Regions from separate parts of the Homo sapiens genome. Here region 2 is linked to region 1. The links come from fine-mapping of genetic effects on gene expression. A gene starts in region 1. The other region holds a variant in brackets. All regions are shown on one strand. Distances are from middle to middle. Region 1 holds the start of PLK2 (polo like kinase 2). Region 2 has its middle 130 kb from the start of LINC02101.

Region 1 (5,382 bases):
CCATTTGTTTTCTGTTGGATAATTGGTATTTTATCCAATTGTAGGAGTTTTTATATAACAGGAAGATAAGCTCTTTCTCTGTGATGAGTTGAAAATAATTTTTCCAGTGTTATTTATCCTTTGACTTTATTTGTGGTGTTTTGTTATTTTAAATCAATGAAAGGGTTTTGTTTCTATATAGTTACATTAATGAATCTTGCTTTTTTTTTTTTTTTAGGGATTCTAGATTTTGTAAATAGTTGAAAGTTCTACCACATTCAGGCTATGAAAGAATTCTTTCATATTGTCTTAAAATTTCACGTATTTCAAACTTTCATTTGCTTGAAAATAAGCCAGATATGAAGCATGGATCCATTTTTTCCTTCCTACTGGTTACCAAATTGACTCCATGATATTTAGTAATTAGTCTACTTAATAGAAAGCGCATTTATTTCCTTTTTTGTTCTATAGACTACAATTTTGGTTCTGTCCACATGATGGCACCACAACCCCAAAAAAATCATGTTCTCAGTCGGAAAGAAGACAACATAAGATTTACACAGCGTTAATATTTTATTAAATGCCTCCATGTTGTGGCAGACAGACCTGAATTTCACATGGAATGTTCAACAGTTTATCAAATACTGAAGTCCATTTGGTAAAGATACATACCATAGTGTATGCTAATCAAAGAAGAAATTGACATTTAAAAAAAAATCATGACAATCTATTCTTCAGTTTTTTATCTTAGGCCACAAATGAATACACATACACATACACACATATGTATACATATACAGTTTATTATCAACCATAAAGACATGGTGTGTAAACTAGCTTTGATAAATTCTAGTAATATTTTCTAAACCTGCAAGCCTTCTACATCTTAGAGAGTAGGTTTGCACAAATCTGGGAAGCAAAGGTCACCCCTGGGCTTATGAATAAAGAGGATAATTACGTAATTCTGAATTTCCACCCCTAAGCCCCACCCCTTATTCCATCCCTGACAATCTTGGGGTTAAAGTCTATTGTCACTTATGAGAAACATGCCTGGACTTGCCCTGCACTCTTTAAAGAATCAAAAACGGAAGTGACAGCAAAGACTTTCCCTTTCTCCTCGCTAATGGCAAAGCCTTTCCCTTTCTCCTCTCTAATGGCAATAAGCCTCTTTTCCACATTATGCTGGAAGTATTTGAGACACAGTATTTTTGTAAATGTTCGATTAATGTTGATACCACACATACCTAAATTTGACAGTGGACTGCAGCAACTTTTTGTATGTACCTTCCAGGGATTCAATAATCTGGTATTCTAAATTTCTCTGGAATTTAGCTTCAAAAAACTATTTACCATATCCTGTTAACATAGGTAAAAAGATTCAAGTGTGCTGCTAATTAACCTAACCTCGATGATCTAGTAAAAATATACAATAATTACCTAAGTTCTCCAAGCCTCATCTATAAAATGGGAATAATAATGTAGGAGATGAGAATATGCCACCCCAAATATGGCCCTGGGATAAAGATTATTTTAAGATAATTATTTTGAGAACCAGCAGACCCAGGAAATGCTCTAAAAATGGCATATTACCCTTTCGTAAGGGAAACGTACATTCACTAAAAAAAAAAACAACAAAAACAAAAAACAAAAAAACCCCACAAAACTCCATTTGTAAAAGTGTCTCCTCTGTACCAGGAAGAATGACTCTAAATCATGAAAAACTTATCAATGAAGAAATAAGAAACCCCACTCCTGTTTACCGTACATTTCCTGGTCATGATTCCTTAACTTGCCTGCCCCACTCTTTTCTTTTGGTTTAGCTAAAGATAGTATTTAAGCCCGATTTTAAACCATCTCTAATTTTCCTGGTTATCTCCCATGTATATATGAGACGTATATGTTAATAAGCTTCTTTGTTTTCTTGTTAATCTGTCTGGTTACAGCGACCCAGGCCAAAACTTTGAAAGGTGGAAAATTATTTTTCCTTCCTTACAATATTTCTCTCAGAATTGTTGTAGGATGAAATAAGGCATTTAAAAATACTGCACAGTCCTCAATAAATGTTACTCTATCGTAATTAGAACAAGAAAAACAAACAAAAAAACGTGTTCCTAGATTAGTCAAACTGCACAGCAAAATCTGGAAATGGGAAACTAAGCTGTGTTTGCACTCACTGGCCTACGCTCCTCTCTTCATCCTACCAATCTCCCTACCCCAGAAAGTCTCAGATTGACTCTCCAGGAACCAGGGCAGCTCATGAGCCATCTCAACAGATGCATTCGGAAGAAGTCATAGATGACTCTGATTGGAAACTCACAATCGGCATCGATGTTTAGTACTAGTAACTGTCAAAGGCCCACGGTTGTCAACCGCTGCCCACTTCGACACCTAACGGCATTCCGGAACATTCCACAAGATGGCGCCCTTGCTTTCCAATCTTCGGGCTACGGGCGGAGGACGCCTTGCCAGGACGCCGACCTCGCTCTGCAAGGTTCAGGGGCCGACCTCAGACAGAGGCTCGCTCTAGGGGCATGGGCGGGGGCCAGACGGGCCTCGAGTGGGATCCTGGCACGGTTGGCCGATCGGCCCGGGATCCCGGCTGCGGGCCCGTGTCTGCCCTAGCGCGATGGGCTCGAATGCCCGGCTCCACGAATCCCGGCCTTTCACCCCCACGGCCTCTCGGCACTGCCCCAGCTAGACACCAGCGAGCTCGTCACAGCGCGGGCAGGCACTGCGGGGCAGCTGCAGACGAGCCCTGTCATACGGCCGGAGGAGGCCTCGCCTGCCCGTGCGGCGGGCTCCGGGCACCCTGATACCTTGACACAGGAGGCCCCGGGCGGCCGGGAAGGGCTGTGCGGGGGAGGGACTGCGTCTACACCCGCGCCCGACTCGCTCGGGTCACGGCACTGCCCTGCCACCAGGCGGCTGGGGCGGGGGTGAGGCCAGGCGTCGGCCCTCGCGATTCTGTTTTGTACGCTGAGGCTCGGAGCCTTCGAAGAACGGGACAGCGGGGCCCACGGACGGCTCTGAAGGCCTTCCCGCGGCCGCAAGAGATCTCGGCGGCCGGCGTTTGAGGCGCGCGGCTCCGCTGGGAAGCGAGACCCGGGTGGCGGGACAAGACTTGCTTCCCGGCCACGCGCGCTCGGCCGGCCGTGGGGCGGGGCATAGGCCGTGACGTGATGTCGCGTATCGAGTCTCCGCCCCCTTCCCGCCTCCCCGTATATAAGACTTCGCCGAGCGCTCTCACTCGCACAAGTGGACCGGGGTGTTGGGTGCTAGTCGGCACCAGAGGCAAGGGTGCGAGGACCACGGCCGGCTCGGACGTGTGACCGCGCCTAGGGGGTGGCAGCGGGCAGTGCGGGGCGGCAAGGCGACCATGGAGCTTTTGCGGACTATCACCTACCAGCCAGCCGCCAGCACCAAAATGTGCGAGCAGGCGCTGGGCAAGGGTTGCGGAGCGGACTCGAAGAAGAAGCGGCCGCCGCAGCCCCCCGAGGAATCGCAGCCACCTCAGTCCCAGGCGCAAGTGCCCCCGGCGGCCCCTCACCACCATCACCACCATTCGCACTCGGGGCCGGAGATCTCGCGGATTATCGTCGACCCCACGACTGGGAAGCGCTACTGCCGGGGCAAAGTGCTGGGAAAGGTGACAAGCGGAGGGCGCCGGGCTGCCGGGCGGGCGGGAGGTCTGTCCGGGCGACCCCAAGCCGGGCAAGCCCGCGGGGTCCCTCGCCCGCCGCTTCCGGGTTTTTCGGGGGTCCGATCCCAGCGCGAGGTGGGCTCCTCACCTGCCCTCTGGCTTTTGTGCGCCGGCAGCGCTGGGGATCGGCTTTGCATTCTTAGCCTCAGAACTGTGTGTCTCCCGCAGCCCAGAGAAATGCATCTTGAGTCTGGAAGCGAGGGCTTTCTACATCAGACCTCTCTCCCTCTATCTGCTCCCAGGGAATTTTCCTGACAAGTCTCATCAGAGATTATTTTTCATGTCTCCCCGTTCCAACTCCCTCCATAAAGCTCCCCTTTATAAAAGAAGAAGAGAAACTGTTTGAACTTGCTGTTTCCAGCAATGCATTTCTCTTCATGAGGGAGCTTTAACGAAGTCGAATGCCTCCCTCTGTCCACCCTCCTCCATTCCTCAATTTTTTTTTTTTTGCTTTTCTTTCTTCCCATTTATTTATTTATTTAAAATATCTGCCGTCCATTTTTGTGCCATCCTCAATTCCGTCTCGGCTTTGTTTCCTTTCAGGGTGGCTTTGCAAAATGTTACGAGATGACAGATTTGACAAATAACAAAGTCTACGCCGCAAAAATTATTCCTCACAGCAGAGTAGCTAAACCTCATCAAAGGGAAAAGGTGCGTATGACTCTTGAGTAAAGTATTTTCTTTGTGTGCAAGGATGGCCCTTCCCTGTTAGGAAAATGTCTTCTGCATGTGTAATCACTGGCTTTTCCGAGGTGACTGGAAGCTAATAAGCCTTACCTTGCTTTTTCATTTAGATTGACAAAGAAATAGAGCTTCACAGAATTCTTCATCATAAGCATGTAGTGCAGTTTTACCACTACTTCGAGGACAAAGAAAACATTTACATTCTCTTGGAATACTGCAGTAGAAGGGTAAGTGTCAACTCCTATTTGAGAACATTTGCTTACCCCGAATTAACATGGTATTCAAAGAGTATTTTATCTGGGATTTTAGCTGTGGCAGCACTTACACTGCAAAGTTAACTTTCATTGCTCATCCTGCAAAGGGAAACCAGTGATTTTGATAACTGTTTTGACAGATTCTCTTTTTTCCTTCTCCTCTTCTTAGTCAATGGCTCATATTTTGAAAGCAAGAAAGGTGTTGACAGAGCCAGAAGTTCGATACTACCTCAGGCAGATTGTGTCTGGACTGAAATACCTTCATGAACAAGAAATCTTGCACAGAGATCTCAAACTAGGTAAGTCATTGACGCCAAAAGCTGAGTTTTGTGTTAGAGTTCTTTTTTCTCTCTCTGTTTTTTTTTACATATTAATGTTCTTAATTGGGATCTCGTGTCTGCAATCTTGCTTTTGAATGGGCGACTTTCATATAACAATTGGCTGCCTGGCTCCAAAGTGGATGTGTGTGTACTTGGTTAGAACGCATTTTCAAAGGGATTCACATTTTGTTTTGTTTATCGTCTAGGGAACTTTTTTATTAATGAAGCCATGGAACTAAAAGTTGGGGACTTCGGTCTGGCAGCCAGGCTAGAACCCTTGGAACACAGAAGGAGGTAAGAGTCAGAAAGATGCATCCTAGTAGACTTTTGTGGAGACCAAATATGCCTTCATTATTTTGCATTTAATGTTTCAGAGGTCCGGTAATAAAATCTATAAATCATAGCAATGTTAATTTAAAGAAATACTTATTAAATGCCCACTATG
Region 2 (5,382 bases), 200 kb after region 1:
CTAGTTTGTTTCTAACTTGTTCCCTTAGTACTTCATTAAAAATAGGAACATTTAAATCTAACAATAATAATGTAGCTTTCTCACTGGAAAAAAGTAGGAATCATAATTAGTCATACCAAAGAGTGGTAGCCACCCTGCCTCAGTAAATGCAGAACTAAGTAAATTCCTGAGTGTTCTTTCTCTAAAGACCCTGGAAGGTTGTATATCATTCAATAAACTTATTTCAGATAGTTGCTATAAAGAGTTTTCAGGCTTCTAACCTAAAGCTCTTTTCCTAGAAGGGGAGATAGCACATGCATAAATAATTACAACACAAGTCTGGTGTGAAAGTGATGGGGCCAAGTTACCCATTAGGCGGGGATGGAAGGCCTAGTACCATGATGCATTTAGGAGCCCATAAAATGTTTCCTTTTAATTTTTTTAAATAAGAAAAAATTAAGTATCATAATAATAATGAATGTATAATAAAAAAAAATCAGCCTAGATTTCATTTATGTTCATACCAATCAGTTATAAAATATCATTTTAATATTTTATTATGAAGAGGCTGATAAGGCAAAAAGTTCCAATGGCCTGTGAAAGTCATTCAGCAGACCCCGGGCCACTGCAGACTCGAAATTGGTCAAGCCCCATAGGGGCTCAGAGGAAGGAGATAGTTTATGGTTGGGGAGAACCAGGAAAGTCTCAATAAAGGAGGTGACATCTGAAGCAGATTACGAAGAAAGGGTGGAATCTTACTTGGGGTAATGGGACAAAGACATTCCTGGTGGAAGAAAAATATATTATAGACTAAAGTTTCTTAGAAAATAGTGTATGTGCCTTTTCATTTACTTTAAGAAGAAACTAAAGGACATTTTAAATTGGTGTGTGCATGTGTGTTGGCCGGTTTGCTTATAATGATGTTTAAATTTTTTACATCTCTCTCAATGCTGTTCTTAAATAATATATCACTAGCCTTAATGAGAAATTATTAATGCAGTGTCTTTGAGAAAATTTCAAACATATTAAATAGGAACCTTCTTTGAAATGGCTGACTATAAGTACAAAACAAGACATATCAGTATGATATGCAAAAAGTATTATGCCTCCTTCTTTTGACTTCTTCTTCTCTGTTTACCTGACTTACAAAGAAGTCAGATGTTGAGATGACCTTAAACTTTTTCTTTAAATTTAAATTAAATTTAAGGATTTTTTTTTAAATTCTGGCAGGAAATGAATAATAGGACTTCCCACCTTAGATAGAAGTTGATGCTTCTTTCAGAGCTTTTTAAAACACTTCATACTATTTTACAAAAATCTTGGACTTGGTATTTAGCCAAAAGTGTATTTCTTTTTATCTTGTGAATGAGGTACATCTCAATGGAAATTTGATGTGGATGTTTTAGGCCCATTAGCATTTTTTTTTCAGTCATATCTATTACCAATATTGGATGCTGGGTAATCTTGACAAATACATATAATACATTTTACCTTTTTCCTTTTGATTGCTGAGATAGCTCCATGTCTCAACAGAAAAGTCTGGTAACCTGGACTTCAAGGGGCTTTGCCTTTCCTTTATCCATTCCCCACACCTCACATTGTATATTGAGCTAGACACCTAGATGGTGGTTGCACTGCCGTAGGTCATGAGAGGAAGAGAAAGGAGATAAACTGCAGTGGCCAGCAGCTCTTCCACAGGCAAACAGGTTAAATTAGTGTTTCAGTTTCTGGCCTGTTCTTGGGGAGGAGCAGGAGGTTGGAGTTTGAGATTTTCTTCACTGAGCACTAGTGGGTTGTTAAAGGAAATTGAAGTAGGGACTTGCTAGACCACAACACTATTCTGGAATAAATAATCTGGAGGGTTAGCAAGAATGGATTAGAAGAGTGAGTGAATAGGACACTCTTTTGTAGAAAATAATGATAATAATATCTAACATTTATTGATTATTTAGCATAAGTGAACCCCAAAATAAATGCTTTATGTGGACTCAGTTCCTAAAATATTCTCCAAAATCTTACCTTCTTTGCAGGTGGTAAAATGATGTCCTGAAAGGTTATGTCATGCACTCAGGTTGCATGACTGGCTTTCCTGACTTCCAGGAGTTGTGTGTGGGACAGGAGGCCATGTGTATTAGATTCCCGTGGCTCTATTTAGCCGGAACATCATGATATGAATTGAGTGTATTCAATGGTCCAGACCTTGTTCTCAGTACAATAGAGATACAAGATGAGTCAGACATAGTCCTTGTACTCAGTAAGTTCACAGCCAAATAGGCAAGATGAGTACAGAAGTAGCCACTTTTTATGT[G/A]GAATACATTTAGTACCAGAATGGAGGGCTAAGTCATAAGAAATTTCAGATGAAAAAGAAATTACTTTAAAGAAGGAAAGGTTAGTGAAGGCTTAAATGAGAAGAAGGCTTTTAGTTAAGTAAGATTTAATTATGGAAGGAAAGAGAATAGGATATTCCAAACTGAGGGATATCATGGGGAGAATAGGAAAGGTAAGAAATGTGAAGCACACTAGTATTTCAGTTTCATAGGACACCATGGTACAAAAACAGAAAACACTGGAGAGGTAGGAGAGGTAGATTAGTGCTAAGTTTCAGAAAGCATTACAGTTAAGTTTTTATCTTACTTGGTAAGAAATGTGGAATCATATTGTAGATTTTTAAGGAGGGGAATACACTTATTCAATAGAAAATCTGTTCATTACATACTTATTACACGCATTTTGTGTTTAGGCACTGCCTGTAATATGAGTGGATACAATGCTATGGCATGACATCTGATTTTAATTAGCTCAATTTTAGTAGAGGAGGCAAGACAAGCATATATATAGTTAATATGTCTGACTATTCTCCTAATGATAGAGTTGTTTATGAAGTATAATTTAAGCCTCAAGAAGTTAGAATTTTTGAAGAAGCAAGGACCCCTTTCCACAACTGCATTTGGGAAAGTAATGTGGCAAAAGTTGTTAGGAGGGTTTGGGAAAGTCAGGTGATAGAGGCAGAGAACTTGGTTTATAACAAACAGTAATCAAGACAAGGGGTAATCAAGACCTGAGCTACAAGGGTAACTTTTGGAAAGGATGTGAGAGGCACTGAAGAGGTTCACCTCATATGATCTGACAACTATTTACACTGGAGTGAGGGAGGAAAAAAAATGTGATGGAGTTAATGAGATTAGCCACAAGGTTTCCCCTCTTGCTGTCTAGTTAAAAGAGTTTTGCTAATGAAAATGAAACGGCTGAAGGCGTGTATTGGTTGCAAATTGGGTTTGATTTGAACTTGCCAAGTTTATAGTGATATAGAATATCTAGTTGGGGTGTTGACATGTAGTATTGGAGTTAAGAAAGTCAGTCAAGACTACAGATGCAGATTTTGGAGATAGTTCTACGAAGACTTGTTTAAACTTTTGGAGAAGGTCCCTGTCTGACAGCTTTGAAGAGAGCAGTGGTTCTCCCAGCACGCAGCTGGAGATCTGAGAACGGGCAGACTGCCTTCTCAAGTGGGTCCCTGACCCCTGAGCAGCCTAACTGGGAGGCACCCCCCAGTAGGGGCAGACTGACACTTCACGGGGCCGGGTACTCCTCTGAGACAAAACTTCCAGAGGAACGATCAGACAGCAGCATTCGCGGTTCACGAAAAACCGCTGTTCTACAAACACCGCTGCTGATACCCAGGCAAACAGGGTCTGGAGTGGACCTCTAGCAAACTCCAACAGACCTGCAGCTGAGGGTCCTGTCTGTTAGAAGGAAAACTAACAAACAGAAAGGACATCCACACCAAAAACCCATCTGGGCATGATCATGGAGAAAGAAGAAGAGTCAAGGAAAGATCTTGGGTAACACCCACATTTATTCACCTGGAAGAGAAGTCAGAAAGAACTGAAGTAAAAGCCAGGGAGATAAGAGTAGAACCTAGACAGTATGTCATAGAGAGAGGAACTCTGATATGGAAGTGCTCAAAGGAGAGAGATCAAAGAGGTTGAGGACTAAGCACAGGTCACTGCATTTAGTTTCTCTATGCTCCTTGGCTACCTTTAAAACAATAGTCCCAGTAAGTTTTGAGCTAGAGCTGTGTTTTGAGGATTGGCTAACTGCCAATCACTAGAGGAATAAGATAAGACTACTTTCAAGATTTTGATAAGGGATGGCCAGGAGAGAAAAAATGGTAGCTTGGTTTAGCTAAGGATAATAATAAAAATAACAACTGGGTGCTCAGAACATGGCAGACACTCTTATAAGTGTGTTATATGCATTTACTCATGCAAGGCTCATAATTCTATGGTGTAGATTATTTGTGTTACTTTCATATTACTAATCATTCAACTGAGGATTAGAGAGGTAAAGTAACTTGCCCAAGGTAAATTAGCTAGTGACTAATTGACAGAGCTGGGATTCAAATCCATGTAGGATTGATTCCAAAGCTCACTCTCCTAATCACTACACAAACTGCCAGTGCATCTGTGAATTTGGGGAAAAGGGTGAAAATGATGGAAAAAGACAAGACAGAGAGAATAGTTCCAGAGGTGGCCAGCCTTCTCAGTGCCATCCTCATTAACAACAGATCCCAAATTTCCATGCTCTTTTGATGCTCTTCATGTCTGTTATTCTGTATTCCAATCTTATGCCACCCCAACTTTGTTGTTTTTCAATTTCTTCTTCCAATTTTATTGATAAAGCCGGTAAATTATGCAGATGTAGTTCACTGCCTGTTTAGTAATTAACTTAGCTGTTTCCCCATTACCTAGACATTTTTCTTGTTTTCTCCGTGGGTTACCTCATTTATTCCCTGCAACGGCCATGGAACAACTTTATTTTCCAAATAGCAAGAGGTTTACATCTTGACCGTCTCTAGTAAATCCTGTACACTGTTTCCAGATCAATGTTCTTAAAGACAGTCTTAGTGATATCTTGAGGAAACCTGAAGCTTCCTCATTGCCTATGAGACTTCTATTCAAATTCCTCAGCATGTTATTCAAAGCATCCTTAAGTTTATCTCGACCTTTTAATTTCTTCTACTTACTGCTTTCCTACATTCTAAGCCAACCAGGATACTCATCATGTCTGGAAGACTGGCTGGCTTTTCTTCTTCGGGACATTGCTCAAGCCATTCCCTCTGTCCTCTTGCCCATCCTCTCTTTCATTTTCATTTATTGTAATGCTAACTATCCTTCCACTCTAAAGTCAAATGTAACCTCTTTCAGAAACGTGATTACCCCAATTAGAAAACCACTACTCACTTGAACTCAAAATACAATAGGCAAAACATAGATCTTATCCTTATAGAACTCCCATACCATCGCCTTTGCACCTACTTGGGATAATGAGCCAGCTTCGAAGTGTCACAGAGAAAGTGAAACAGGGGAACTTATCTAAATATTCCTAGCCCTTGTATGTCCC

Evidence for each region. PIP is the estimated chance that this variant, and not a neighbour inherited with it, causes the effect.
Region 2: its variant is fine-mapped to the expression of PLK2 in whole blood (TOPMed, PIP 0.97).

The regions. Positions count from the first base shown.
Region 1 is chr5:58,457,933-58,463,314 of GRCh38, reverse strand. PLK2 (polo like kinase 2) reads left to right here and starts at 3,229. Exons shown (of 14, transcript NM_006622.4): 1 at 3,229-3,625; 2 at 4,223-4,330; 3 at 4,474-4,590; 4 at 4,787-4,916; 5 at 5,144-5,231. The coding sequence starts at 3,356. RefSeq lists silencers at 2,732-2,911, 4,939-5,233.
Region 2 is chr5:58,252,959-58,258,340 of GRCh38, reverse strand. No RefSeq gene overlaps it. Among named protein-coding and RNA genes, the nearest start is that of LINC02101, 130 kb to the right of the region's middle. The variant G/A (reference allele first, on the strand shown) is at 2,288.